4 separate regions of the Homo sapiens genome follow, and regions 2, 3 and 4 are each reported to be linked to region 1. Evidence: microRNA targets listed by miRTarBase, many of them from high-throughput screens and not tested one by one. Region 1 holds a microRNA gene; each other region holds the end of a gene's coding sequence.

Region 1 (7,793 bases):
GAGCCATGGGAGGCTTCCCCCCGCAGAGCAGGGACCAGGGCTAGTGTAGGTACAAGAGACTCCCTCTGGCTGCTGTGGGGAGAACAGACTGTAAGGGGTGCCGGCTGAAGCAGGCTGAAGCAGGTCCGGGGCCACGCCTACCAGCTACCTCCTCCTTAGAATGGGCTGCAGTCCAGCCTGACGGTTTCCACAGGGAGGGAACTTTCAATCCTGCAGGCTCTCAGACCCAGGTAAGCATCAGAATCTCCTGCAGAGCTTATTGGAGGAACATGCAGGTCCCCAGAGACCACTTCAATAGACCCCACCCAGGGGACACATGTTCTCAGGACCTCCTAAGGCTGTGTCTCACACACACACACACACAAAACCCACCCAGAGAAGTCTAGAAGTGTCCAAAGGTATTCCCAGCCCTTCCAGTTCAAGATTTTATCAAAGACTCCAACTTCAACATTTTGTTTCCAAGACTCAGGCGCTCTGATCCTAAGTGTTCCCATGAGGTCACGAAGGCCCGAGCCTCGGGTCCACATCACCACATACAGAAGCAGCCGCTGTCTGGCCCTCAGCTTTTAGGATTCCGAATCTGGTTCTAACGTTCTGAATCCCCTTTCCATGTCACGTCACCTTCTCTCTCTGAGCCTCGTTTCTTCACCTGTAAATGGGGCTTCTGACTGTACCCGCTTGGCGATGGTGGCTGAGGTTTCAATGAGATGCATTCATGCAACAAATGACCAGGGAGAACCAACCACCCCCGACCCCAGCACCATCATGCCAGGCTCCGGGAATATGGCAGGGCCATAACCAGCCAGTCCCAGCAGCCAGCATCACCAGCAGGGCCATAACCAGCCAGTCCCAGCAGCCAGCATCACTGGGGCCAGATTCTGGGAGCTGGCTTCCTAAGCAGCAGATTCGGGACTCAAGATTCGGAAGTTCCGACATTCTGTGCGTCATTAATGACACTGTGAGCGCGGGGGCTGAGTTGGCACATACTGCAGCTCCAAGGCACTGATCTTCTAGTTCATTCCCATTTGCCAAGTCAGACACGCTCAATCAGATGTGCTGAATGAATCAGCCTTAAGGATCTGCTGCCAGGCTTGGGAACCTCAAAGAGGCAGGTGCTGGGGCTCCAGGGTCGGTATCTGGTTACGACCCCAACTTTGAGTCTGTGATCCTGTCCCCCAGTGGACCCCGAGGGCAGGAAGCAAGCTGGGGCAAAGGCAGAGTTCTGAGAGGCAGGGGGCTCTGAGTAGCTTGTACAAATTATGTCGCTTTCTGAGTCTCTGCTCTCTCTGCTTAAGATGAGGATGATAAGAGTCCCTGCCTTGGCTGGGCACGGTGACTCATGCTTGTAATCCCAGCACTTTGGGAGGCCAAAGGCGGGCAGATCACCTGAGGTCGGGAGTTCGAGACCAGCCTGGCCAACATGGTGAAACCCCATCTCTACTAATAATACAAAAATTAGCCGGGTGTGGTGGCTCATGCTTGTAATCCCAGGTACTCAGGAGGCTGAGGCACGAGAATCACTTGAACCCAGGAGGCAGAGGTTGCGGTGAGCTGAGATCACGCCACTGCACTCCAGCCTGAGCAACAAGAGTGAAACCCCGTCTTAAAAAAAAAAAAAAAAAAAAGTCTCTGCCTCAGAGGGCTGTCCTGCAAGGATTCAGTAAAACAGGACTTCCACAAATCCTCTAGGGAGGCAGGAGAGAGCAACGCACAAGATCACATGGGTGGGGACCATGGAGGCCTGGTTAAAAACCCCAGCTGTGCCCCAGACAGGCTGTGTGACCCCGGGGCAGGTGATTCTACCGCTCTGATTCTGTCTATATAAAACGGGGGTGATAGTGACTCACAGGGTTGCTGTGAGGATGGAAAAAGGTGTATGCAGAGCTGTGCTTGGCACATGGCAGGGGCCCAATAAATGACCACAGTCATTGTTACTATCGTGGGAAATTAACGGGTGAGAAGGATGCTGGGGAAGTTGTGTGCACCACGGCAGTAACGGAGGCAGGGTGAGTGGAGGAAGGAGGAGGAGTCCTCCTCGGGAAACCCTCCCTCACTCATCAAGCCCCCCCACCTCCCCATGCAGCTTCCTGATTGGAGAAGACGGGCTCGTATACGAGGGCCGTGGCTGGAACTTCACGGGTGCCCACTCAGGTCACTTATGGAACCCCATGTCCATTGGCATCAGCTTCATGGGCAACTACATGGGTGAGTGACTGTCCAGCCAGTTGGGATGGGGGCTGACACGGGGCCCTACGCTATCACTTCCCCTTCGGGGAAGCCCCTGCCTGACTCCTACCTCTGCCTCCTCCAGATCGGGTGCCCACACCCCAGGCCATCCGGGCAGCCCAGGGTCTACTGGCCTGCGGTGTGGCTCAGGGAGCCCTGAGGTCCAACTATGTGCTCAAAGGACACCGGGATGTGCAGCGTACACTCTCTCCAGGCAACCAGCTCTACCACCTCATCCAGAATTGGCCACACTACCGCTCCCCCTGAGGCCCTGCTGATCCGCACCCCATTCCTCCCCTCCCATGGCCAAAAACCCCACTGTCTCCTTCTCCAATAAAGATGTAGCTCAAAATGTGTTCCTCAGCAGGTCCCACCACACACCTCCCCTCCTTCTCTCCCTCCCACAAGACCAAAGCCCTCCCACCCCTTCCCCTCCCAGCACTCTCCTCACTGGTGCTTGGAACCCAGAGGCCCCGGCCCTGAACCAAGACCCCGGAGATCCCAGCTCGAGAGCAACATCACAGCTCAGAACCCAGAGGTCTCAGGTCAGAGCCCAGGAATCAGCACCAAGGCGGCCGGGATGTCACCAACAGTGGGTCCTGGGGGTCCTCCTGGGCAGTGAACCACGCTGCAAGACACCTCCTTCCCACCACACAGCCAAAGGCATCCTGCGCAGAAACTTTGCTTGGACTCCTTTAGGGACGGGCTGCTCACTACTCCTCCCAGGTCTGCCCTTGCACTGTTTAGAGAGTGTACAAGCTTTTCCTAGGCCTGAGTCCCAATCTGCCTCCGAGGCACAGACACACAGGTCCCAATTATACCCCCCAATTTCTCTTCCTCCACATTTCTCCCCACTCCACCCTCACCCTTTAGTCATAAGCTGAGGGGTCCCCAGGGCAAATATGTTTATTTACAAAATGCACACATCCTCCCTCCCAGCATGCACTGCCTGGGGAGAGGGCAGGGTCAGGGCCTCACACACCTGAGACCCCAGGGGCAGCAGGAGGGACGGGGCCAGGGCAGGGACTGGGCAGGGCTGGAGGCCACCCTGGCCCCACCCCCCACACCATACCCAGCAAGTGGGTGGGGGATGGAGGGGTAGTACCCCTTCTCCACGTTATGACCGCATGTCCAGTCGGTTCATGTACTCCTGCAAGGCCTTCAGGCGTGCGTCTATTTCGGCCATGTCAGCCGCCTGGTGCTCCGAGCTGTACTCTGTGAGAGCAGGTGTGGGTATGGGGGCTGTGAGGGGCCTGAAGCCCCAGGGAGTTCCTGGGCCCAATATACCACTGCCCGCACTACCATTCCAACGGGTCCTGGGGCTGGGAGAGGGGATGTGGAGTCCCAGGCTCACCTTTGATGGGGACCCAGCCCCCGGAGTTGGCCAGAGATTTCTGATGGTGGCTGCGTTCCACGGGGGGAGACTTCTGGTGATGGGGAAGGTAGGAAAGGGGGTCACCCACCGTCCCTCTATTTCTGTCCCCCTAAATCCCACTGGAAATCCTGAGCCTAAGGACCTTGGGGAAAAATAAGGCCTGACACCTACTGGCCATTCATTATCTGCAAAATAACCTCCTAATGTCCTCACAGAGCCCTCACCTCACATGTGAGGTGATGCCATTACCAACCCTGGTTAACTGATAAACAAAAACTAAGGTACAGAGAGGCTAAAGAACTGCCTTGAACCATACAGCTGGGAAGAGGAGGAGACAGGTTTCAAGACCTGACAGTCAGAAGCCAAAGCCCTAAAGAGCATCACGTGCCCCTCATTATTCCTTCTCCAATCTAATGCTCTCAAAACGTGCTGTTCCCAGGCCAGGTGCGCTGGCCCAGCCTGTAACTCCAGCGCTGTAGGAGGCTGAGGATGGCTTGAGGCCAGGAGTTCCAGACCAGCCTGGGCAACATAAAGAGACAATACCACCCCCTTATCCTGTCTCAACCCCACCCTGCCCCCCCAAAAAAGCCTAGTCCCAGCTACTCCATAGGCCGAGGTGGGAGGGTCTCTTGAGTCCAGGAGTTGAAAGCTGCCGTGAGCTACAATTGCCCCACTGCACCCCAGCCTGAAAGAGCGAGACGCACTCTTAAAAAAGCCCTATTGCCAAAGGCATTCAGAGTCGCCTCTGCACCTGATCCCCAGGAAGGAATCACAGGAAATGGGGGCAGCTGTGTTCCAGTGGTTTATGTTGCCCCTTCTACTCACCATATTGGACCCACTCCAGGGCGTTGGGCTGGGAGGCTTCCCACGGCGGCGGTGACCCCTGAGAAAAAGGAGTAACCAAGGACCAGTGGTGGGGAGGCTCTGGTACTTCCCACCTCCCCGACCTTTGTGGTTTCAAGGCCCCCAGGCTCCATCACCCAATTTCCCTGCAAAAGACTGTTTCTAGTCTCCCCAGAAACCCTTTGGAGGCGATCCTTTTCCCAAGTTCAAGTTTTACCCTCTGGAGAGCGACTCAGAGAAATCCTCCAAATCGCTGCAGGAGCTGGCAGACGAGCAGCGGCTGCGGAAACTGTCCACTAGAGGGAGACGGAGGGCGTGACCGCTGGCCCTCGCTGGCCCCGCCCAGTGCTTCCCAGGCCCTCCCAGCCCGCCCGCCCTGCCCAGTGCCTCCCAGCCCGCCCAGCCCCGCCCAGTCCCGCCTAGCCCGGCAGCCCCCAGCTCCAGGCCAGTTACCTGAGGAGCTGCGGTTTCGGGAGCGGTTAGGGGCGTCCCCTCGGCCAGTCAAGGCAGCAGGGGGCTGGGTCTGGCGAGACCAGGAGACGGACGGACCGTCCCCGCTTCCCCCACTGCCTAAGCGGTTCCGCTGCTGCTGCCTGGGAAAAAAGAAAGGAGACGCCGGTCTGTACGCCCAACTCCTGCAGGCAAGGGGGTCACTGCGCCCCTAAAGGTCACAGCCACGCCAGCGAAAGCCTGAGGTGACAGGCCTACGAGCGGAAAGCACGCAGAAACACAGACGAGGAGGTAGGACGGACGGAAGGGAGAGCAGGCGGGGTATCCGGCGAGAAGCGAGCAGGTGGCAGGGGATGGAGACTGATGGTGGCGTGGAGAGATGAGAGCCCGGGAGCGGGCACGGGCCAGGGACAGGGGCAGGTGAGGGAGGAAGGGGCACTGACTTCATCTGGATCTCTCTCTGCTTCCTTTCCTTGGCTTTCACAAAGGCCGTGGGGTCGAAGCGGAGCGCGCGACCACCTAGGACGGCGTGGGAGAGGAGGCGGCTAGGTCCGGAGACGGGCCTTGGCAGCGCCAGTGCGTCCCCTCCCTACCGCAGGGCAGGGGCACAGACCTGTGGGCGAGGGCGAGGGGCGCGCAGGGCGGCCCCGACCCCGGCTCCCGCGGCCGCTCTCCCGGGATGAGGAGCGCGCGGCGCCGCGGCCTCGCGACGCGGAGCGCTCCCGGGACGATGAGGCCCGGTCCTCCCGCGTCGGGGGCGGCTGCACCGGCGGAGTCCGCCTCCTGAGACCACAGAGGCAGCTGTCAGCTTCCCGCCCGCCCCGACAAACTCAATCGCGAGACTCCTCCCCGACCGCACCTTCTCCGAACCCTCAGGCCTACCCCATCAACTCCTAGACGTGCACTCCTGGGCCCATGACCCTCTCGATATCTTCCCCCCCAGACCTCACCCAATTGGACCCCTAAAACACCCCTCTGTCATTCCCCTACATCCTTTCAACACACCGCCTTCAACAGACCCTTCTTTCCGGAGTCTTCCACAACTCCCCGGAAACTCTTTCCAATTTTCCACCACCCACCCCATAAATGCCAGCGGACCTCACCCTGATCCCACCTGCTGCGCCGCACCCTTTCGCACCAGGAGACCCTAGGGCACGATCCCTTTCCCAGTCCCTCCTGAACGCCGCCCCAAGCCTGCGCATCTCCGCACAGCCCGGGTCCACCTCCTAACCACTGCACCCAAATCCTGTCTGGACTCCAGACGGGGTCCGCTAAGCCCCGCCTCCCCTTCAGCCCCGCCCCCTCCACCCTACCTGGCCCCGCCCCGCCCCCTTAGGCTCCGCCTCATCAGCCTCCACACCCTCAGGGCCCGCCCATCCGCCCAGGCGCCTGGCAGGCCTCGCTCTCACCCCCTCTTGTACAATGCCAGCTCGCTGGTCAGCGTCTTCAGCCGGGCGCGCAGGCTCCGCTCCGATGCCTTCGCCTCCTCGAGCTGCCGGGAGGGGAGAGGGGCGCGGAGGTCCAGGCTGAGGCCGAGGTCCGCGCCTCGCTGGCCGCCCCGGGCCCCCGCTGCTCACCTCCTTGGCCAGACGGCGGCAGTCCTGGCCGCGACGGCCGGCCACCCTGTGCCCGAGGCCGCGCTCCTGCCGCAGCTCCAGCTCCAGCCCGCGCACCAGCCCGCGCAGCGCCTCGGCCTCCTGGCGTGCCGCGCGCCCGGCCAGCGCCTCCTCGCGCGATCGGCCCAGCTGCGCCTCCAGCTCCCGCTTCTCGGACGCCAGGCGCGACACCCTGGGGAAGACGCGGAGAGAGCGCTGGAGAGAGAGGCATGGCCCCATTCCCACTACTCCATGGGGGTGGGACGCCTCATCATTTCACCTCCCCGGAAGGGGGTACACGGCTCATCAGTCTCAACTGACCCCATGGGGAGGGGCAGGGTCCTATCATATCCCCTGCGACGTGTGAGGAGGGATGTGGTCACATCACCCCCATGCACCTCACGAAGAGGACATGACCCCACCACGCACAGGACACACACACACACTCCTCCCCCTGGTGCGGGTGAAGGAGTGGGAACACAGCCATGTGAGTTCCAATTCTAAACGATTTCATCAATCTGTACACACCCTGAAAGCCTAGCACTGCCTCCCTCCTCCTCCCACCTCGCCAGGCCAGTCTCCCAGTCACGAAATCCTCTACAATACAAATTTGATCAGGTAACTACCATGCTCAAAACCCTTCCTTGAGAAAATGTATACACAAGGCTATTCATTGCAGCACAATCTGTAATAGCAAAAGAGTGGAAATAACCAAAATGTATGTTAAAAGAGAACTAATTGAATTTCTAATACATCTACTCAATTGAGTCCCACAAAACTATAAAGAGGAAAGTAGAGTATCTCTGTGTCCTGTCACCGAGTGACTGCTGTGACACAGTGCGGTGCAGACAGTATGTTCAGAATGTCCCTTTTCATAAAAGAAATGAGAATTATAAATTATATGTTTATATTTTCAAAATTACAGAATAAACCAAAATCTATGGGGGAAAAAAGGATTATTTATGGGGAAGGGGAAAATGAACAGAAATTGGACTTCTCTGGCTGGACAAAGTGGCTCATGCCTGTAATCTCAGCACTTTGGGAGGCCGAGGCAGGTGGATCACATCTCAAAAAAATAAGAAAACCAGAAGTAAAAATAATTTTTTAAAAAATGTAAGAAATTGGACCTCTCTGAATGTACCCTCTTTTTCAGTTTTGGAACTATAAAAATATTTTATACAAATTAATTAATTAAATTTTAACAAATGCCATCACAAAAATTTTAAAAGAAACTGGCCCAAACAGACCTAACTCTATATCAAAGTTGGTGGCACATTGGAGAATTATAGGAGGTGACTAAAACA
Region 2 (7,793 bases), not on the chromosome of region 1:
AAATACAAAAAATTAGCCGGGTGTGGTGGCAGGCGCCTGTAGTCCCAGCTACTCAGGAGGCTGAGGCGGAGAATCACTTGAACCTAGGAGGCGGAGGCTGCAGTGGGCAGAGGTTGCAGTGCTCCAAGATTGCGCCACTGCACTCCAGCCTGATGACAGAGCAAGACTCCGTCTCCAAAAAAAAAAAAAAGTAATGTGTAATGTGGCAGAGCCCAGTGTCTTGTGTTTGTAATCTCAGCACTTTGGGAGGCCAAGGTGGGCGGATCACTTGAGGTCAGGAGTTTGAGACCAACCTGGCCAACATGGTGAAACCCGGTCTCTACTAAAAATACAAAAATTAGCCAGGCACAGTGGCACACACCTGTAATTTCAGCTACTCAGGAGGTGGAGGTTGTAGTGAGCCGGGATAGCTCCACTGCACTCCAGCCCAGGCAACAGAGTGAGACTCCATCTCAAAAAATAAAAATAAATAGGCTGGGCACAGTGTATCATGCCTGTAATCCTAGCACTTTGGGAGGCTGAGAGGGGCGGATTGCCTTAACTCAGGAGTTCGAGACCAGCCTGGACAACACGGTGAAACCTCGTCTCTACTAAAATACAAAAAATTAGCGGAGCGTGGCAGTGTGCGCCTGTAGTCCCAGCTACTCCAGATGCTGAGGCAGGAGAATTGTTAGAACCCAGGAGGCGGAGTGAGCAGAGATGGTGCAAATGGACTCCAGCCTGGGTGACAGAGCGAGACTCTGTCTCTAAAAAATAAATAAAAAGCAATGCATGCACATACAAAAAAAAGAAATTCAGACTGTACAGACTGGAATTAAGTGCCCACTACCACCACACACATATCCTTTCTTTCTACTCCCTAGAGTGGGAATTTTAATAATCTTGGAACTCTTCACACAGGTCTACATATGTGGTGGGTTTAATGGAAACGAGTGCCTGTTCACAGCAGAAGTGTATAACACTGAAAGTAATCAGTGGACAGTCATAGCACCCATGAGAAGCAGGAGGAGTGGAATAGGCGTGATTGCTTATGGAGAACATGTATATGCGGTAAGTTTATCTAGTACCACACACACACAAAAAACACATTACCCCTAGATTTTGTATTAGTAAATGGGTTTATGCTACTATTGGTAAGTATTTGAAAAGCTTTTTTTTTTTTTGAGATGGAGTCTCGCTCTGTTGCCCAGGCTGTACTGCAGTGGCAGGATCTCGGCTCACTGCAAGCTCTGCCTCCCGGGTTCATGCCATTCTCCTGCCTCAGCCTCCCGAGCAGCTGGGACTACCGGCACCCGCCACCATGCCCAGCTAATTTTTTGTATTTTTAGTAGAGACAGGGTTTCACTGTGTTAGCCCAGATGGTCTCGATCTCCTGACTTTGTGATCCACCCGCCTCGGCCTCCCAGAGTGCTGGGATTACAGGCGTGAGCCACTGCACCCGGCTGAAAAGCTTTTTTTCATGGAAGATAATGGAAGAGGGAGTTATGAGATCACTGGTACCCCCAACAAGGGCTTCCTCAGTGAACAGAATCAATGGTTAGCAGTCAACCGTGTTTCTTTTGCTATCCACAGGTAGGTGGCTTTGATGGAGCTAATCGACTTAGGAGTGCCGAAGCCTACAGCCCTGTGGCTAACACTTGGCGCACAATCCCCACTATGTTTAATCCTCGTAGCAATTTTGGCATCGAGGTGGTGGATGACCTCTTGTTTGTGGTGGGTGGCTTTAATGGTTTTACCACCACCTTTAATGTTGAGTGCTATGATGAAAAGACCGATGAGTGGTATGATGCTCATGACATGAGTATATACCGCAGTGCTCTGAGCTGCTGTGTAGTACCAGGGCTGGCCAATGTTGAGGAATATGCAGCTAGACGGGACAACTTCCCAGGATTAGCACTGCGAGATGAAGTAAAATATTCTGCTTCGACAAGTACCCTACCTGTATGAGCCTCTTCATTTAGCTAATAAAAAGTCTAAGCAATAAGAATTAATTCTTTTTTTAAAAAAATGCAGTGTTTAAACTTTGAAGAGTACTGGAAAATGTTCAACTTAAGAGAGCCAATGGCTGGATGAATGAGGGAGTAGGAGGGATGGAAGAAAGCAATTATATCCGACAGTGCATAAATAAGAAAAAAAAGTCACACAGTACAAACCAGCTTTAAAGAAATATGTTTATTTAAAACTTACACTGAGACAATTAGTAGCTTTAACAGAGAACAAGATAGCTTCAGGAACATAAAACAAGCTATTTTACAATGTCATGTCTCAAGGTGTTCTAAATGCTACATCTCCTCTGAGTTAAGGGGAGATAGTGAAGATTATATTTTCAGTAGAGTAGGGACCTGGATACTACTAGTCCAAAAAACTTACTGCATCAACTCAAACTAAATGTTTATTTTACAAATAACTCAACGAGCCCAAGCACACGGATCATAAAATCTTCAAACACCTAGCAAGCACTACTTTTCACGAGTGCATTATGCAGGAGGACTAAGTTAACAAGTGCTCTGCAGTCTGTGCTTCAATGTAAGACATTCGTAGTGATGGTCACTGAGTAAGATAAAAAGCCCTACAAGTGTAATAAACAAACCGCAGTGATTTTGCTATCTAATTAAATTACTTGAAGCAAAATGACTACTAGGTTATATTACTGTTATTATATTACATCACCCAACTATGAGCTGTTCTGTTTCCAATGACCAGAACATACGGTACAATAACAAAAACAAAAAATGGACTATTCTCAAGAAAGTAACAAACTGGAGTGATGAACTGTGCCAAAATGTTTGAGAGACTGAATTGTTTCTCAAATATTTTGCAGTTAAAGCACCCTCTGGTGTAGACAGAGTACTTGGTTTACAGTAATGTACAACACTTTCAAAGACATGAAATGTGGCCCGTATACTATATTTAAACTTAATTTGAGAAAAGTATCAAAAAAGAAGTCCCTTTAGTTATGCTTGATTAGACCAAATAACTAAAATATACAAATCAGCTCTCCTGTCTACATACAGTATAGTGTTGACTTTAGAATTACAAAGCAGAAAATGAAATATTTTAAACATACCACATGCTACACTAGTCAAGAGGTAAGGAGGAAAAGTGAGCCCTAGAAACTGCCTTACCAGCAGCCTGACGGGTTTAAAAAACACAAAAGCACACAAATCTTCCATAAACACTATCTTTCCAGCTTCAAACTTCTGTTTTATATTAAAAAGGTATATTTAAATTTTTTGGTCCCAGAAATACTATATAAAACCGGGTGATCAAAACAAAACTTATGTCATGAATTTTAAGAGTTTTTAGCAAAAAAGATATTTTTGAACTGGCACAGCAAAAGCAAAGTTGAACATCATGATACACAAGACTAATCATGCAAACAACTGTAAGTGGGATGTGTTACTTAAACACTAAGCTCATGACTGACATTCTCAATATATACCACTGATTTTTTTAAGCCATGGTGGGGTAGATATAGTTCAAGGATACCCATTCTAAGATATAAGTAGCCTCACTCAAAGTTACATATACTATTACTTTTTGGTATAATAACTTCCTCTCTCTTCTACAAACAAAAGCAAAAGCAACAAAACAAAGGTTTGCTTGAATACGCATTAAGCTGTCTTTCTAAAGTCATGTTTTTAACTGCTTACATTACCAAAAACAATATTTTAAGTTTTCTCATCAAAAAGGAAATTTCTTTCCCAAGGAGCTATTTTAGGCCTGATCCTTGTACTTAGAACCTTTCCAAATACTCTGGGAAGTTATTTCCAGTTTAGAATTTCAGAATGTCAGCCTTGAACAGATTTAAGCAAATCTGGTTTCTTTCCTTATTAACAAGTTAGTTAGGATATTTCAGAAACACAAGTTATTGATGTGAAATTACACATGTGAATTCAAAAATAAAAATTAGAAAATCAGGAAAACCTGCACACATCATCATGCAATGAAGGACTTACCCCTTCTTTTCAGCCATGGCCTAGGCTGCCTGCTAAGTTAAAAAACAACAGTTTCAATCAAGGTTTTAAAACCAGATTATGCCTAAATCTTATGAGTTATAATTTCTGTCACATGATGTGAAAAAAACACAACCCCACAAATGACTTGGTAATAATTATCTCAGAAGACAACTCTGAGAACAAAAAACAAAAAACACATCACACCCTTCCAGTTAAAAACTATTATCGTAGTGAGATACTAAATTATTTAAATACAATCAAGAAAACGAAGTTTGCTAGCACAGTCTGTTGGAGAGAAATGAGAACTTCATTTAGTGAGCTTCATTTAATGATTCTGTCTTACTTGCATAGACCTATCACAGCTAAGAATTAGTGCTTCTCAGAATCCAAATGGCTTTTACTAAAATAACTACAAAGAAATAGAAATTGAGAAAAAGGTAGTGGTGGGATGGGACAATATAATAATATATCCTTATATGTAGAAATAGACTTGCAGTTTCTCACGCCCACTCCAGTCTAAATTAAATGGATTTAAAGTTGATTTTCAACACATTTATTAAAAACTTTTCACCTAGGCAGGGATACTAATTTAAAAATTTCAAGTTCTTAGTATAGAGCCCAAGACCTACAACTTGCAGCAAATAGCCAAAATTTCTGGTTGTGCTTTTCTCTTTTGGTATTTGATCACTAACAAGAAGATTAACTATAATGGACTAGGGAAAAAAAAAATCACTGCACTTGGAATTTGACTTCTAGAATGGTATGACAAAATGTCTAAGAAGGTAAAGACAGTTCTTAAGAAACAGGATAAATCATTGGACAGGTGGCTCTTTGGGAGGCCAAGGTGGGAGGATTGCTTGAGGAAAGGAGCTTGAGACCAGCCTGGCCAATAAGGTGAGACCTCACATCTTAAAAAACCAAAACAACAACAAAAACAAGAAAACCACATTGTAAACTGTTAGGAATCCTTTATATTAACTGAGCATTAAGAGTAAATTTGAGGGCTGGGCATGGTGGCTCATGCCTGTAATCCCAGCGCTTTGAGAGGCTGAGGTGGGCGGATCACGAGGTCAGGAGTTCGAGACCAGCCTAACCAACATGGTGAAACCCCATCTCTATTAAAAATACAAAAATTAGCCGGGCGTGGTGGTACACACCTGCAATCCCAGCTACTCAGCAGGCTGAGGCAGGAGAATCACATGAACCCGGGAGGTGGAGGTTGCAGTGAGCTGAGACTGCGCAACTGCACTCCAGCCAGGGCGACAAAGCGTGACTGTTTCAAAAAAAAAAAAAAAAGTTATTTTGAGGCCGGGCGTGGTGGCTCACACCTAATCCTAGCACCCTGGGAGGCTGATACGGGTGGATCTCCTGAGCCCAGGAGTTGGAGACCAGCCTCGGCAACATGGAGAAACCCCATCTCTACCAAAAATACAAAAAAAAAATTAGCTGGGCGTGGTGGCGCGTGCCCATAGTCCCAGCTACTCCGTATGCTGAGGTGGCAGGATGGCTTGCATCCAGGAGGTGGAGGTTGTAGTGAGCCGAGATCATACCACTGTACTCCAACCTGGGTGACAAAGTGGGACCCCATCCCCTGGCCCAAAAAAAAAAAAAAGTCAATTTGAGTGCTAACTTTTATAAAGCTCAGGAGACATAAGATAATTCGAATAACGTATAAAACTAAATAAAAGATAGCTTCAGTGATCTTTTTAATTTTTATTTGAGACACCGTCTCTCTGTCACCCAAGGTAGAGTGGCATGATCACAGCTCATTTCAGCCTCAACCTTCCCAGGCTCTGGTGATCCTCCCACCTTGGCTTCAAGTAGGAAGGACTACAGGCACGTGCCAGCTACCACACTCAGCTAATTTTTCTACTTTTTGTAGAGACAGGATCTTGCTATGTTTCCCAGGCTGGTCTTGAACTCTTGGGCTCAAAATCTGCCCACCTCAGCCTCCTCCAAAGTGTTGGGATTACAGTCATGAGCCACCGTGCCCAGCCCATAAACCTTTAAAAGCCAAAATTATGTACCCAAATTTGGTATCCTAGGCTCAGGCAAAGTTTGAAAGTGTGGGGCAACTGGATAAAATATAACAATCAGAAATAATAAGGCTTCTCTTTAGCAACATTTCTCTAAATTGTGACTTCCTTCCCATTTTGGAAAAAAACAGTTTCTTGTAGAAAAGAATAATGGACTGGGCACGGTGGCTCATGCCTGTAATCCCAGCACTTTGGGAGGCTGAGGCGGGCGTATCACCTGAGGTCAGGAGTTCAAGACCAGCCTGGTCAACATGGTGAAACCCTGTCTCTACTAAAAGCACAAAAATTAGCCAGGCGTGATGGTGGGTACCTGTAATCCCAGCTACTCGGGATGCTGAGGCAAGAGAATCACTCGAACCTGGCAGGCAGAGGTTGCAGTGAGCCGAGATTGCACCACTGCACTCCAGCCTGGGCAACATGAGCAAAAAAAAAAAAAAAAAGAGAAAAGGAATAATGAAGATTCTATATAATATGCATTAGAGCAAAAATTAAAATGGAAGGCATTGAGTGTCGATTGTCATAGGCATTATTTACACTCATTAACATATCCTCAAATAATCCTGCAACTCCTGAAAAAAATGTTGAAAAAATTTTAAATGCCTTTGATTTCCCAGTCTACACTAATACTTTTCTTCTTAGAGAAACAAAGTTCACACATGTAACTTGCTCTGTATTTAGTCAATTAGCTAAAGATCTATACTTTTGCCAACTACCGTCACCTCAGATTGAAGGCTTAAAGTCTATAAACAGCTGCTAATGAAAAATATTCAAAAAATGCATGAGCCAGTAAAAAATTTCTCATCAGTCACATCTTCTAGGAAGGAAACTGGCATTTCTAGATAAACATAAGAAAATATCAATGCAAACATTCTCAAATTATCTTGCTGAAATATTGAGTGTTTTCATTCAAATTTCAGTCTCACTATTGCACATGCCTCCTGCAGATGAGGGCTCAATGCAGAAGTCAGATCTTGCCAAAACCAATCATTTAATAAAAAATGAAAAAGAATATCAAAGTAAATGTGCAAATAAAATTGGTGCTTAAAGCATGTTCAAAACGTAAGTCCTCAAGACAAAGGAGTCATAACTCGTTGGCAGGAAAACAGCTAAGCAACTACACCTGATTTTTCCACTTGTCCTTAATAAGATCTTATTTAGCTAGCACAAACAAACAAACCAAAGACAAAAATTGCAAGCTAACAAAATGACCATGTATTGAACTGAGTCTCCCATTCTTTAGTTTTTAACTCTATTTCCTTTATATGGGGTAATAATCAGTTCATGTAGAAAATAAGTTATCGACATACTTTTTTAAATAACAGCCTGGGTATCTTCAGCTTCACGAAACGGGTGTAACAGTTTTAATCGGCACGCTTGAGAGAACCTAGCATTCAATCTGAGAGCTTGGCACTCGCCTCATGTTCAGGGCGTGACGATGTATCTCTTGCATCTGTCTGATGCGGTCCTTCTGCCACATCAGGTTTTGAGGCATAGGGTATCTCTGTGTGCCATGCAAGTACCGGTATGGGATCCTCACGTGACAAGCAGTGGCTCTACAACGAGGTTGTGGCATAGGAGGAAGAAGCATCCACCTCTTCCTCTCCGCACAATATCGGTAGGCTTCTTTCCGATACTGTTTATCAATATCATCACTGTTTTTCCAGCCTCCTATAATGAAGACATCATCTTTGTAATAGCAAATGGCTGCTCCTTCGATGCTTAGGACTTCTGGAGGCAAGCTTTCAAGGATCTCATCAGACACTTGGCTGGCAATTTTTCTTACTGCCTCTTCGTTTTC
Region 3 (7,793 bases), not on the chromosome of region 1:
AGAATACTACAAACACCTCTACGCAAATAAACTAGAAAATCTAGAAGAAATGGATAAATTCCTCGACACATACACCCTCCCAAGACTAAACCAGGAAGAAGTTGAATCGCTGAATAGACCAATAACAGGCTCTGAAATTGTGGCAATAATCAATAGCTTACCAACCAAAAAGAGTCCAGGACCAGATGGATTCACAGCCGAATTCTACCAGAGGTACAAGGAGGAACTGGTACCATTCCTTCTGAAACTATTCTAATCAATAGAAAAAGAGGGAATCCTCCCTAACTCATTTTATGAGGCCAGCATCATCCTGATAGCAAAGCCTGGCAGAGACACAACCAAAAAAGAGAATTTTAGACCAATATCCTTGATGAACATTGATGCAAAAATCCTCAGTAAAATACTGGCAAACTGAATCCAGCAGCACATCAACAAGCTTATCCACCATGAACAAGTGGGCTTCATCCCTGGGATGCAAGGCTGGTTCAATATACGCAAATCAATAAACATAATCCAGCATATAAACAGAACCAAAGACAAAAACCACATGATTATCTCAATAGATGCAGAAAAGGCCTTTGACAAAATTCAACAACCCTTCATGCTAAAAACTCTCAATAAATTAGGTATTGATGGGACATATCTCAAAATAATAAGAGCTATCTATGACAAACCCACAGCCAATATCATACTGAATGGACAAAAACTGGAAGCATTCCCTTTGAAAACTGGCACAAGACAGGGATGCCCTCTCTCACCACTCCTATTCAACATAGTGTTGGAAGTTCTGGTCAGGGCAATTAGGCAGGAGAAGGAAATAAAGGGTATTCAATTAGGAAAAGAGGAAGTCAAATTGCCCCTGTTTGCAGATGACATGATTGTATGTCTAGAAAACCCTATTGTCTCAGCCCAAAATCTCCTTAAGCTGATAAGCAACTTCAGCAAAGTCTCAGGATACAAAATCGATGTACAAAAATCACAAGCATTCTTATACACCAATAACAGACAGCCAAATCATGAGTGAACTCCCACTCACAATTGCTTCAAAGAGAATAAAATACCTAGGAATCCAACTTACAAGGGAGGTGAAGGACCTCTTCAAGGAGAACTACAAACCACTGCTCAATGAAATAAAAGAGGATACAAACAAATGGAAGAACATTCCATGCTCATGGGTAGGAAGAATCAATATCGTGAAAATGGCCATACTGCCCAAGGTAATTTATAGATTCAATGCCATCCCCATCAAGCTACCAATGACTTCTTCACAGAATTGGAAAAAACTACTTTAAAGTTCATATGGAACCAAAAAAGAGCCCGCATCACCAAGTCAATCCTAAGCCAAAAGAACAAAGCTGGAGGCATCACGCTACCTGACTTCAAACTATACTACAAGGCTACAGTAACCAAAGCAGCATGGTACTGGTACCAAAACAGAGATATAGATCAATGGAACAGAACAGAGCCCTCAGAAATAATGCCACATATCTACAACTATCTGATCTTTGACAAACCTGAGAAAAACAAGCAATGGGGAAAGGATTCCCTATTTAATAAATGGTGCTGGGAAGACTGGCTAGCCATATGTAGAAAGCTGAAACTGGATCCCTTCCTTACACCTTATACAAAAATTAATTCAAGATGGATTAAAGACTTAAACGTTAGACCTAAAACCATAAAAACCCTAGAAGAAAACCTAGGCATTACCATTCAGGACATAGGCATGGGCAAGGACTTCATGTCTAAAACACCAAAAGCCATGGCAACAAAAGCCAAAATTGACAAATGGGATCTAATCAAACTAAAGAGCTTCTGCACAGCAAAAGAAACTACCATCAGAGTGAACAGGCAACTTACAAAATGGGAGAAAATTTTCACAACCTACTTATCTGACAAAGGGCTAATATCCAGAATCTACAATGAACTCAAACAAATTTACAAGAAAAAAACAAACAACCTCATCAAAAAGTGGGCAAAGGACATGAACAGACACCTCTCAAAAGAAGACATTTATGCAGCCAAAAAACACATGAAAAAATGCTCACCATCACTGGCCATCAGAGAAATGCAAATCAAAACCACAATGAGATACCATCTCACACGAGTTAGAATGGCAATCATTAAAAAGTCAGGAAACAACAGGTGCTGGAGAGGATGTGGAGAAATAGGAACACTTTTACACTGTTGGTGGGACTGTAAACTAGTTCAACCATTGTGGAAGTCAGTGTGGCGATTCCTCAGGGATCTAGAACTAGAAATACCATTTGACCCAGCCATCCCATTACTGGGTATATACCCAAAGGCCTATAAATCATGCTGCTATAAAGACACATGCACACGTATGTTTATTGCGGCACTATTCGCAATAGTAAAGACTTGGAAGCAACCCAAATGTCCAACAATGATAGACTAGATTAAGAAAATGTGGCACATATACACCATGGAATACTATGCAGCCATACAAAATGATGAGTTCATGTCCTTTGTAGGGACACGGATGAAATTGGAAATCATCATTCTCAGTAAACTGTCGGAAGGACAAAAAACCAAACACTGCATGTTCTCACTCATAGGTGAGAATTGAACAATGAGAACACAAGGACACAGGAAGGGGAACATCACACTCTGGGGACTGTTGTGGGGTGGGGGGAGGGGGGAGGGATAGCATTAGGAGATATACCTAATGCTAAATGACGAGTTAATGGGTGCAGCACACCAGCATGGCACATGTATACATATGTAACTAACCTGCACACTGTGCACATGTACCCTAAAACTTAAAGTATAATAATAATAAAATTAAATTAAAAAAAAAAAAAGCTAAGTAGGGTCAAGCCTGGTTAGTACTTAGATGGGAGACCTCCTTGGAATACTAAGTGCCGTAGGTTTAAGAAAAATATGCAAAATATTTTAAAAATAAATAAAATTAAATCAAGTTATACATACTAAAAAAAATTTGATCTTTTGCTCATCTTGCAATGGGTTTTTTTTTTTGCATTAATTTTGATTTTTTTAAAATACTGCATCAAAATAGTATTTCTCTTGATTACTTAGTTTTCTGGAAGCCAAGGCAAGTGCTCACATGCCTAACTCACTTTTCATTTCACCAGGGTCTGGCCCTTTAAGTCAGTATGTCTGATGTGTGGCCATAAGCTGCAATTCTCACGTGCTCTCAGCTGCTGCTTCTGCTGCTGCTGCTGGTGAGTAGCCCATGCTGTGAGGTGGCTGTACAATCCTTTTGTCTGAGACCCAGACCATTCAATTCCAATTTAGGATTGAGACAAACATTTTATTTGCCCCCGTTCATTATTTTTCTCTAAAAATACCTAGGAAAAAAATGTAATAAAACAGTTTAAAGTTGTTCTTGTTCAACAAAAGTTATGTAAATATAATGAGATTGTTTTGCAGTTGGTCATCGAAATCAAATTCCATCAGTGCCGAAGATCTCGTGGGTATTTTTTATTGAAAGATCTTTTCCCTTCAATAATGGACATTTTACATTAAAACTTTATACAACTAAAATATGCAAATTATATTAAAATCACACTAAGGTATTTTCATTAAGTCTCTACTTTACTGTTGGTAAAAATATTGTAAGACACTTGTAACTAATGTTTCTGCTTTAAAATAAGCAATTAAACTAAACGTCACAAGAAGAGACAATACATACTATATATTTGCAGATAACTGGCTAAATGATAATTTAATAGTAATAATGTCTGTGTAAGAAACAATTGCACTTGAAAAATTAAAAAAGTAAACAAAAAACCCTCTAGTTTTATATATAAGTCTATGAACAGAGGTTAATCATCTATAACCTTGCCAGGAGAAGTGTATGTTTGTTTAAATAAAAAAAAAAAAAAGTTTGCATTTAACATAGTGATCATTCATTTAAAAAAAAAGTCTTGAACTTTTTATATGTTTTTACAGAATTCCCCATAGTTTGTTGCTCAGAAGACTACTAAAGCAAAATAACACTTCATTGGTATTTAGTGCAAATTTGGGGTGATTTTGAAATGAAATGTTAAACATGTACCCTTTAGAAGCTGTTAGAAGTAAGTATTGTGACTGCCCTTTCTTCAGTATACTCTTCTTTTAAAGACTTTGATGGAAAAATTTTAACTGAGGTATTTCGCCTGTTTTGTTTGGGCACAGTGATATCCCAGCCAATACAAAGTTGACACATCTACAACTTTTTGTAACTGATCTTAGTTCCCCACCTGTTCCCTGCCATAATTGGGATATTGTCCAAAGCTGACAGGATGAAAGAAAAAGTCAATTCAGAAGAATTACTGTAGCATTATCATTCCAGGGCTGTAGGTGGAAAGATTCCCATTAAAAAGTGTTATATTAGTGAGGAAATCATTGGAACTAACAAATGCCTACATATAAGATTTAGAAATGAACATTAGTATGGAAGACGTGCAGTGAAATACTAATTGCTTGCCATAGCAATAAAAAAAGGTTACATTGATTTTTAACAGTCTGAAGGTCCAGTATATATGATATTAAATCCAACTTGCAAGAGTACAACTATCCACTTGACCACACATGCCAGCTGCTACAGTGAGGCTGAGCTATTGTTTCTAGAAAGAAAATGGTTTCTACATGGTAAATAACTTTGCCATCATCCTTTATTTAAGGTACATGGTAGAATAACAGCACATTGCATATTGAGCGAGCATAAAGGAAAGTAATGATGGATACTTAATAAAGCATGTTTTTGTAGGAGAGGAAAAAGGATGTAATTCCCTCTGCACAGAGCAAAGGATGTGTACCTATATTTCGGAGTAAGAATCTAAGAAAAGGGGAATATGCCAACACTATGAAATATAAGGTTAGCACCAGCAATATGTGAGTTTGCCAGTATGTCTGTTTCATGTAAATTTAGGGCAATAAAAGTGAATATATGTGGCTTTTAAACTGCCAAGTCCCTTCTTTGTATGCACATGTGTATGATGATAAAAAGGCCACTTAAAACTCAGATGTTTTTTAAAGGTAGCAAGGTGAATGCTCAAAATTAGAAATGCTACTGGACATGTGACTCTAAATATGAATTACTCAATTATAGTAAAGAAAAGACTTTCTGCAGGAAGTCCTTATTACAAAGGCTCCAAATCTTGGCTTCCTGTTTATTTTCCCTAAAGACCAAAGGGAATTTTCAAACATGTAATGTCAATAACCTGTTGCTTCTTGTAATAAATGGCTGGCTTGGGGGGTTGTTTTATTATTTTTCCTGTCTCACTGTTGCTTTTTGAGTGAATGAGCCTCCCCTTCGAAGTCTGAAAAATTAGATTGCATTAGGATCAGTGTTTCTCACAGTTCTTAACCTTTGGGATCTATCAGAACTGACCTGAAGAGTTTTTGCCAGAATACATATTCCTGGCCCAGTCCCCACAGGCTCTGATTGAGTAGGCCCTAGGAGGGAGCCTACACATCATAAGAACTACTGCCCTAGATGGAGATTCTCAGAGACAGAAAGTGAACTTGTAGCTCTGATCTAGAATTGTCTTTCTTCACTACATTAAATTAAAATGTTCCCTGGGAGCCAACTGGGCCAAATGCTTCACATGTCCTTAAGGAGGGTATTGGAATAACAGGGCCCCACACTATGAATCCACAGTGCGGTAAAAATGTGAATGGATGTGCCTTCTGGGTTACAGCTTCAGAGTGGGGAAAACTCATGAAAACTAAGATGGGCACAGTTGGGTGCCAGAATGTTCCTTGTGATTCCCAATTACTCACTGCATTCAGGAGAATGGGTGTTCTTGCTTTTAGCTAGATATGATCCTTTCACCATTACTGTAGAAAGGATAAACATTCCCAGACATATGGTAGAGTAAATGTTTTGGACAAAGAAAATTAGTGCATAGAATCAAAAAACCATTACCAAAGGTTGGCAAAAGTACATGTTCTGAATGGTGTGTGGGTGGGTGTGTGTGCAAGGCCATGAAATGGGCATGGCAGGCTCTCACGAGTTCTTAGCTTAGAGATTTTGCTTCATGTGGTCCTGTGGACGGAATTTTCTCTTGAGAACTAGGAGGAGCTCGAGGCACCAGGACCTAGGGTTGTGCAAATCCACTCTTTACAATGAACACCACCAGTTCAGTTTCTAAACATTATTTTGGAGCCTATAAAACATGCTTCTTTTCCCTAGCTTGATTTCTTTACCCCATATAAAAAATAAATAAATAAAAAGGGCAAGAGAGGAGCCAATAACTGGCAGTAGGGATGGGTGAGAGTCACTCTTTACTTAATAATCTGTGGACAGTCGCTCCAAGCCTTTGCTTTCCTTTTGGCCAAAGCCAGCCAGGCTGGTTCTGTTGACACGGGGGCAGCATCCGGGGTGGAAAACCTCTTGGTGACTTCTTTTACCAGCGGCGCTGGGGGAGCCGAGTCGGAGATCTCCACTGGATTTTGTTTTGAAGGAAAAGGAAAAAGTAAGTTCACAGCCACACTACAAATTTTCTTTTTAATTAACAGATGATAAACTATGTATTTATCATGACAAACTGTATTTGTCATGTACAACATTGTTTTGAAATATGTATACATTGTGAAATAGCTAAATCTAACTAATTAAAATATACAAAACCTCACAGTTATCATTTTTATGGTGAGAGCATTTAAAATCTACTCTCTTAGGTCTCTTGAACTTATTCCTCTTATCTAACTGAAATTTTGTATCCTTTGATGAACATCTCTCCAACACCCCCCACCCCAGCCATATTTTGATTTATCAGAAGTGTGAGACTGAAAAAAGAAAACCCAGTGAAACACAGAGAGGCAAATTCCTGGACTCCCTCAGTGAGGAGAATGAAGGAAAGCAAGCTATGTGTTTATATCTCTTGCACACAGAATTACAACAACCAAAGTAGTCAGTTCTAATTTCAAAGAATTTCCAGAAGCCTAATCTATATAAAGAAGCTATGCCTGCATGATAACCAGTCAATTCCATGAAGAAAAAGATCAACCCAGCCGACTGGATCTGGTGAGGTTAAAAGCTACCTTCCTGGCCAGGCGTGGTGGATCACGCCTGTAATCTCAGCACTTTGGGAGGTCAAGGAGGGAGGATCACTTGAGGTCAGGAGTTCGAGACCAGCCTGGCCAACATGGTGAAACCCTGTCTCTACTAAAAATACAAAAAGTAGCCAGGCTTGTTGGCAGGTGTCTGTAATCCCAGCAACTTGGGAGGTTGAGGCAGGAGAATCACTTGAACCCTGCAGGCAGAGGTTGCAGTGAATCGACATCGCACCACTGCACTCCAGCATGGGTGACAGAGAGAGACTCTGCTTCAAAAAAAAAAAAAAAAGCTACCGTCCCCACAAAAGCATCCACTGGGTGCCTCTACCTCTGAGTCTCACAGATCCTGCCAGCTCCCATGACTTTCATCCTTGTCTCACAGTTCTTTGCACCGTATCACTTTATCAGAGTGTATAGGCTTCTTAATGTGAGAGGGTGCTTGTCTTATCTTTGAGTCATAAATAGTGCCTATGGCAATGGCTTACACATATGCTTCTAGAACTCAGGAAATACTGACTGAGAAGACAAATACTTCAGAACAAAGACTTGCTTTATTAAGCTAGAGCCACTCTTGAGTTGCATTAATCCTTTAGTACTTCTGAGAAATCAGGCAGAGAAAGATTTGACCTCTTTGACTTTGGGGCTTTCACTTTATTTTGAAAGAAACTCATTCTCTCTCTTTTTCTCACTCTTTCTCTTTCTGGTTCTAACAGGTAGAACCCTTAATTCCTATAAGTAAAATCAAATGACATAATGCCTGCCTGCGGTTC
Region 4 (7,793 bases), not on the chromosome of region 1:
TTTTTTTTTTTGAGACGGAGTCTCGCTCTGTCGCCAGGCCGGAGTGCAGTGGTGTGATCTCGGCTCACTGCAACCTCCACCTCCCAGGTTCAAGCAATTCTCCTGCCTCAGCCTCCTGAGTAGCTGGGACTATGGGCACGCCACCACACCCAGCTAATTTTTTGTATTTTAAGTAGAAATGGAGTCTCACCATGTCAGCCAGGATGGTCTCGATCTCTTGACTTCGTGATCCGCCCGCCTCAGCCTCCCAAAGTGCTGGGATTACAGGTGGGATTACAGGCATGAGCCACCATGCCTGGCCCATTCTAAGTACTTTGGATGTATTACTACATTGAATCCTCCCCCAAATCCTATTAATTACCATTATTATTCCCAGATAAACAATGAAAGATGAAGGAAAATTCAACTGAACTGTGACATCTTCTGAGAGTTCAGAGAAGACACTGCCTTCATTAAATAAAAATAAGGGTGCTTTAAGTATAGAAAGAATGATAGAAAAACTTATAGTAGAAAAAAAAACTGATGGCAACCCTCTCCTCAAATTAATAGAAGGATCTGAAGACAAAGGTGAGGAAATCTCCTTGAGAGTTGAACAAAATATAAATAAATAAAAAGTAAGAATAAAGAGATTAAGACTATTTGAAAATCAATCCAGAAGTTAAGGCATAAAATCCAGAAGGTTCATCTCTCTTTCTGGAATTCCTGAAAGAGAAAATAGAAAATTGTGGGAATGAAAATATGTAAGAAAAAAAAATACAAGAAAAAATTCCAAATTATCTGGATTGAAAAGTCTCTCCAGGTATATAGTACAACGAATGAAAAAGACCCAGGCCAAGGCCACACTTTTGAGAAATTTCACATGTACGGTTTATTTTTTTTTATTTTTTGAGACAGAGTCTCACTGTGTTACCCAGGCTGGAATGCAGTGGTGCAATCTGTGCTCACTGCAACCTCCACCTCCCAAGTTCAAGTGATTCTCGTGCCTCAGCCTCCTGAGTATCTGGGATTACAGGCGCCTGCCACCATGCCCAGCTAATTTTTCATATTTTTAATAGAGACGGGGTTTCACCATGTTGGCCAGACTGATCTTCAACTCCTGGTCTCAAGTGATCTGCCCTCTTCGGCCTCCCAAAGTGCTGGGATTACAGGCATAAGGCACCATGCCTGGGCAACATGTACAAATTTAAAAGTGATTATTAAATAACAATGAAAACTACTAGCTCTTAGTATCTTTTTAAAAAGTGATTTCACATACAGTCTCACATTTAAATGGGCTTGAAGGGTCCAGTGTCCCTGGCAACAGAGAATAAAACACTTGTAGGATGTCATTTTCAAACCTTTCACAGATGAGAGAGCACAGTTCATTAATACCTAGGTATGTTTGCATGTGGACAAGCTTTGGAATGCATGTCCAGTTTCCTAGGCTAAGTGATTAGCTCTTAAAGATACAGTGCATGACTTCTAATTCCTTGCTATTCCCTCACGTCAACTGAAAACTGCTTTGACTAGGTAGGTCTGTGCAGCTGACTGATATATGAACCAAGCCTGGAGAAAGGAGATATGATGTCATGAGCATTTTTTTTTCCAACTTGTTTCCCTCAATACCCTTCAGGTACAGTGAATACGGTCACCTTTTCTCACTGTGTGCTCATGCGGACAAGGTTTTAAATTTTGATGATTGTCAGATTTTTACTGGTAGGTTTGGGCTTGGGTAACCCTCTTCCCTTCCAATAGTGTAGTTCTAGAATTCTGTCAATAAACAAGCTAGTGTGAATTAATTGAATCAGCTGCATCAATAAGGGGGGGTATTCAGTGTCTTCTCTCCTCAATGCCAAGGGGAACCAGGTGAGTGAAACTGATTGGCCAGACAGTTTCTTTGCCAAATCTTTGAGAGTCCTCAGGCTTTGGGAGAATTAGTAAAAAACGGACATGGACAGAATGTAAATGGAAAGTTGAACAGGCTCTTCACCAAGATGGTGGGTTGCAGTTTCCTGCAGCCACACAGTCTTTGTTGAAACAGGGCTGTGGTTATGAAGAGTTGTGCATTCTTAGCTGCCGCAGACTGTGCTGGGAATGGAAACTAAAGCAGTCAGTGGCGGTGACCACAACCCAGAAGCTGAAACCATGCTCTAATTTTACAGAAAATTGCTAGTTCTGGCTCTGTTCATTGCTTATGAGTTTTCATTTAGACTGCAAGGATTACATCTAGTTGTATGTGAAATAACATCTTGAAAATTGACTGAAGAAAAACCATTTAGCCCTCACTCATTTGTACTAACCCACAAAATGTCAGTACAAACATCTTCTAATATACTGTAAGATACATCCTTTAGCATTGACAGTCAGTACAATTATAGGAGTGAAAAACAGAGGGAATAGCCAAAGCAGCAGTGAGAAAAGAGGACGGACAAAAAAGATGAGGAGGAGGAGGAAGAAAAAAATTAGGAGAAGCGACTTTGCATTTGGGAAAAAATTTGGACTTATATTTATTTATGTGAATATCTTGCCAAATTTGGGAATTAACAGTATGTTAAAGAAAATGGTGAGAGCTGGCCGGGCGTGGTGGCTCAGGCCTGTAATCCCAGCACTTTGGGAGGCCGAGGCAGGCAGATCACAAGGTCAGGAGATCGAGACCATCCTGGCTAACACGGTGAAACCCCGTCTCTACTAAAAATACAAAAAATTAGCCGGGCGTGGCAGCGTGCGCCTGTAGTCCCAGCTACCTGGGAGGCTGAGGCAGAAGGATGGCATGAACCCAGGAGGTGGAGCTTGCAGTGAGCTGAGATCGCACCACTGCACTCCAGCCTGGGTGACAGAGCGAGACTGTCTCAAAAAAAAAAAAAAAAAAAAAAGAAAAAGAAAAAAAAGAAAATGGTGAGAGCTTATTGTAAAGATAAGACTAACTACCAGCCTTATTGGGCCAATGTGCTATTGAGAATTGGCTACTAACAGCTTAAAAATGTTTAGCCTTTTCATCTAAAAAACCTCACTCATTGTGGGACAGAGTACTAATCTTTTTTTTCTTTTTTGAGATAGGTTCTCACTCTGTCACCCAGGCTGGAGTGCAATGGTGTGATCACAGCTCACTGCAACCTCTGCCTCCTAGGCTCAAGGGATCCTCCCGACTCAGCCTCCTGAGTAGCTGGGACTATAGGCACATGCCATCAAGCCTGGCTAATTTTTGTGCTTTTGTAGAGATGAGGTTTTGCCATGTTGCCTAGGCTGGTCTTGAACTCCTGGGCTCAAGTAATTCACCTGCCTTGGCCTCCCAAACTGCTAGGATTAGAGGTATAGCCACTGTGCTCAGACTAGAAAGAGTACTAATCATTTTAATTAAAGTAGACTGAAATTCCAGTAAGAATTTCAAAGTGAAATTTGCCTTCTTTTATTTAGCCTCAAGTTCCTCAACAGTTACCTATATTAGCAGTGAGATTCAACATTTCTTTTCTATAACAACTATGACTTACCACTTGACTTTATACATAGTATGGATTCCAGATAGAGTTATTAAAAGTGAACACATAAATAAGTGAATGAATAGAGAATGCTTGAGAAAACAGATTTTAGAATTATGAGTTCTTGGACAGACTCAGAGGCTTACGCCTGTAATCCCAACACTTTAGGAGGTTGTGGCAGAAGGATCACTTGAGGCCAGGAGTTCAGGACCAGCCTAGGCAGCATAGTGAAACTTCAATCTTTACAAAAAATTTAAAAATTAGCCAGATGTGGTGGTGTGTACCTGTAATCCCAGTTACTTGGGAGGCTGAGGCAGGAGGATTGCATAAGCCCAGGAATTTGAGGCTGCAGTGAGCTATGATCACACCACCACACTCCAGCCTGGGTGACAGAGTGAGATCCTGTTTCAAAAGAAAGAAAGAAAAAAAAAATGAGTTCTGTGAAAGTTTTGATAGATCAAATAAAAGCATTTGTATCAATCTGCATCCTATTTTAAAGTTTGTATTCAGGAACCACAAACAAAAATTTCAGAAAGAACCTCCCCAGGAACACAGCTGAAACCTGTATTTTGTTTGTAGGACAAACACTGTACACATGGAGGATGACTTAATAATGTAATTTATTTGAAATACTTCCAGAAAAGTTTAAGGCCATTATACAAAAACATTCATTTCATCAAAACATTCATTGACCACCTTCCCATAGGCCAACACTTGACAAACCTCTTTTCCCAACACACTGGCTGATGGCTTCTAAAAGTGGCTGATGGCGCCTACAAAGAATCATTCATTCTTTTCTTCACCAATAAAGGCTGTTCTTGGCTTTCCTCTGCTTCTGTCTGCAGCAGGTTCACTTGCTGTATCAATAACGACTTGAGAAAGCAGTTTTAAATAAACTTGTAATAGAAAAAATTCATCATGTTTAAGACCTATAAATACAGAAATATGTTTTACAGGGTAAAATTGATCACAATATCCTTGTTTTCAAAAAATAATAAAGTATATACCTTGTTTTTATATTGATATATCTTGTCACACAGCTTGAATGCACATGATATATGTACATAATAAAATGACATCAATGCATTTACTGCTTTCTTTTCTGTAAACTTGAAAGACAGATTAAAAAAAACTTTTTGGCAATAATTTAGAATAATTACCACTAGTGCTGGTGTGGGTATAATTTTGCACAGGTCATCCTTAATATTTACACTTGCAGGGAGCTCTTCTAGGTACTTAGCTGTTTTTAAGGTCTGCACTTTACCCTGCACTGTAAATCAAGGCTGGACAAAGAGGTTACTAATCTGGCTAGCTGATTCTAATTAATCAGAGTTAATGAAATTGGCCTCTGGAGAACATAATTACAATTCTGATTATAGCACAGAACCAGAGATGGCAAATTGACGACCCAAAAGCAGAGCAGGAAAGCCCAAAGCTCTGGCCTTTCTCAGAAGGCACTGGACCATGCTTTTCTCTCAATGGCTCCCACAGAAGGTTCTGACGAAGTGCTTTTCATTCCAAATTCTTCCTCTCCTGTGTTTCTATAAACAGTGTCATCGATAGAGTCATGGTCTCTCTTCCTTGTTGCTTCATTCATTCTCTAAAATAATGAGTAGGCCTAGGCAGATGAAACACAATGAATACAGGGCCTTCTTGTTATCCTGGCAGGCCTTCCTAAGCCCTTTGGGTTCTATTCTGATGTTTTAGGCTAGCAACCAACTATGAGAGACACCTCCTGGTGCCATGTGCATTTCAGTTAAAGATTCAGAGCTGGCAGCCGCTTCTGTCCTGGCCCTTTTAAGGTCAGCCTCTATTTTATGTCCTAATACATTCTTGCATCAAACTTGCACTGGATGAAGTTGCAAAGTTCAGACAATGCATCCTCCTTTGCAAAATTAAGCCTTCAGAATCCCCAGGGATGTTTTCAAGCTTTCTAGTTGAGTAAGATCAAACCAAGTTCACTTCATGAGTTGGTCTTTCCTGATTCTCTCTCTAATACCATCCCAATACACAGATGAGTTCCTCATGCCCTATTTACAAGGCCGTCTAAATTCCGTGCCTTTAGCTACCACATCTAAGAGCTGGGAAAGTGGTACAGAAGCACAAGAGGAAGGACTCTTCAAACAATCTATGTAAAACAGTAGTTTTGAGATTCTTTTTCTATTTTTTTAAAATCCAGCAGGACAACTGAAAGTAACTTGTTTGAGTACCTCTCCATCCATCCAGACACTTGGGAAATACAACACAGGGTAATAGTTGCCACAGATTCCAGCTTACACAGACAGATTGGCAGTTACAGTACTAGGGACAAAGGTACAGATACGAGAGACTGGGCCAACATGTATACTTTCACAAAAGTATGAAAAAGTGCTTCTCCAAACCGTTCCATCTGTGGAATGCAAATACTGTACAGGTAAGATGCAGGCCTGCTTCCCGAAGTGCACATGCTTCTGTCAGACGTTACTTTCACCGTGCCTGCTGTTTCCACAGGAAGAGTCTGTCTGTTCCATGCGCTCACAGTCGAGGCTGACCTCACTCGTGTCCATACTACAGTCTGACTCACTGTCCGATTGGTCCATCTGCTCAAGTTTTGTTTCTCCCTGTAGCTCTCTGCTCCCGGTGGTGGGATTTAGGAACGATCCCTCGGAGTCAAGCACCCCAGCTTGCCCGGCAGCACACAAAACTGTTTCTTTGGCTTGACGAATACAGTTAAGCCACTGCTGTTTGTTGAAAGTGTCATTGGCTTGTAGCGAGTGGGTCTGACTTTGGGATCCATTTTTGAAACTGACTCTGAAGAAGTTTTTAACTAGAAAGGAAAAACACATGAAAAACAAAGTCAATGGACAGATCCTTCCTCAGGCCAAAGAGAACACACGTAGTGACACTAAACCCCAGAATCCATGGCAGGTATTGCTGATAACAAAACGTTTCCCACTGATCTGGGGCATGGCTCAGCTCCACCCTGCAGCCACCATCAGGGAGATGGGATTGACACAGGTCTAGCGTTCAGCTGCCCTCGTCGCTCTCAGAAACCCGCAGGTGGAGATCATCTTGGAACCACAAAGTCAAGTGATTTAGGGGAGCCCAGAGTACTGGTGACCCAATCTGGCTGCATAACAAAATCCCTTGGGGTGAGAGCTTGTTAAAAAGACAGATGCGCTCAGAGGCTGAAGTGGGAGCACTGCTTGAGTCTAGGATTTTGAGATCAGCCTGAGCAATATAGTGACGCCTTTTCTCAAAAAATAAAAATAAATCAATAAAAATAAATCCCCAGGCCCTTTTTTAGAGATTCTGATTCAGAAGATCTAAAAGTCGTTTCATAATCTGTAATTTCAACAAGTACACCAAGCTGGAGCTTTTTTCAGTTTAAGAGGCTCTTTTTAACATTAAAACATGCCCATGTTTCTCCATATGAGAGTATCTATACACTTAGTATCCAATGATGGAGAAGATATATGTAGACAAATTTGGTTTCATTGTCAAACGAAATTACATTTTAATTACCTCAACAGGAGCCATCTGCATTTAAAAAAAAATGGTAGTCCACAATATGGAAGACATTTTATTTAATCTTTTTTTTTTTTTTTTTTTGAGACAGAGTCTTGCTCTGGAGTGCAGTGACACAATCTCCGCTCACTGCAACCTCTGCCTCCTGGGTTCAAGCAATTCTCCTGTCTCAGCCTCCTGAGTAGCTGGGATTACAGGCATGCACCACCATGCCTGGCTGATTTTTGTATTTTTTTTAGTAGAGACAGGGTTTTGCCATGTTGGCTAGGCTGGTCTCGAACTCCTGACCTCAGGTGATCCACCCACCTCAGCCTCCCAAAAAGATGGGACTATAGGCGTGAGCCACCGTGCCTGGCCTATTTAATCTAATAACAACAATATAATGGACATTTAAAGGGCCCTGCGTGCCACATGCAATGCTTGGTTCACAGAAGCATCTGCAGTCAGTCCCTTTGCACTAACCCTGCAGCCAGTAGACTGGGAACCACCACCACTTCCAATGGCTTAGAGGCTAAGCAACAGAGGGAAAGGAGGCCAAAATGTTTTACTGCTAGCCATCTTTGGCTAGAAGCTATTCTCCGTCCTTCAAATTTAGGCTCCACCCTTTGATCTTGGGCAAGTACCTTAAATCCTCTGTATCTTAGTTTCTAACTTGTAAAATGGAGAAAACAAGAACCTACTTTATATGGTTGTTATGAGGAATAAATGTAATACATGTAAATGCTTATACAATGCCTGGCACATAGTCAGTACTCAAGAAACATAAGCTCTTATTTCTACTACTCCTACTCCTAGGGTAGAGGGATTGATCAGTAGGGAGAAGGCAGTACA

What was found. Region 1 holds the annotated microRNA hsa-miR-769-5p (UGAGACCUCUGGGUUCUGAGCU, at 2,749-2,770, opposite strand). A microRNA usually pairs through its seed, bases 2 to 8, with sites in the 3' UTR of a target mRNA and lowers its output. Matches are read on the target gene's strand: a 7mer-m8 pairs with bases 2 to 8, a 7mer-A1 pairs with bases 2 to 7 and ends in A, and an 8mer does both.
Region 2: miRTarBase lists KLHL11 as a target of hsa-miR-769-5p. Seed matches in the 3' UTR shown: 8mer at 4,855-4,862 and 7mer-A1 at 4,832-4,838.
Region 3: the mRNA of CRACD is a reported target of hsa-miR-769-5p. The part of its 3' UTR that is shown has no 7-base or 8-base seed match.
Region 4: miRTarBase lists ARHGEF3 as a target of hsa-miR-769-5p. The part of its 3' UTR that is shown has no 7-base or 8-base seed match.

Annotation. Positions count from the first base shown.
Region 1 is chr19:46,013,938-46,021,730 of GRCh38, reverse strand. MIR769 (microRNA 769) reads right to left here and starts at 2,799; the gene lies at 2,682-2,799. It overlaps CCDC61 (coiled-coil domain containing 61), which reads right to left. Exons shown (of 14, transcript NM_001267723.2): 6 at 6,472-6,682; 7 at 6,304-6,386; 8 at 5,508-5,677; 9 at 5,338-5,413; 10 at 4,898-5,037; 11 at 4,662-4,740; 12 at 4,427-4,484; 13 at 3,581-3,653; 14 at 3,115-3,441. The coding sequence ends at 3,344. PGLYRP1 (peptidoglycan recognition protein 1) reads left to right here. Exons shown (of 3, transcript NM_005091.3): 2 at 2,084-2,205; 3 at 2,312-2,578. The coding sequence ends at 2,493. RefSeq lists an enhancer at 1-70 and silencers at 4,809-4,868, 5,599-5,678, 6,146-6,440.
Region 2 is chr17:41,846,361-41,854,153 of GRCh38, forward strand. KLHL11 (kelch like family member 11) reads right to left here. Exons shown (of 2, transcript NM_018143.3): 2 at 2,158-7,793. The coding sequence ends at 7,380. It overlaps KLHL10 (kelch like family member 10), which reads left to right. Exons shown (of 5, transcript NM_152467.5): 4 at 901-1,050; 5 at 1,573-2,024. The coding sequence ends at 1,947. Among named protein-coding and RNA genes, the nearest start is that of KLHL10, 12 kb to the left of the region's middle.
Region 3 is chr4:56,326,261-56,334,053 of GRCh38, reverse strand. It overlaps CRACD (capping protein inhibiting regulator of actin dynamics), which reads right to left. Exons shown (of 11, transcript NM_001393381.1): 11 at 3,445-6,410. The coding sequence ends at 6,250. It also overlaps the pseudogene RNA5SP162. Among named protein-coding and RNA genes, the nearest start is that of AASDH, 57 kb to the left of the region's middle.
Region 4 is chr3:56,723,362-56,731,154 of GRCh38, forward strand. It overlaps ARHGEF3 (Rho guanine nucleotide exchange factor 3), which reads right to left. Exons shown (of 10, transcript NM_019555.3): 10 at 4,059-6,261. The coding sequence ends at 5,909. Among named protein-coding and RNA genes, the nearest start is that of TASOR, 44 kb to the left of the region's middle.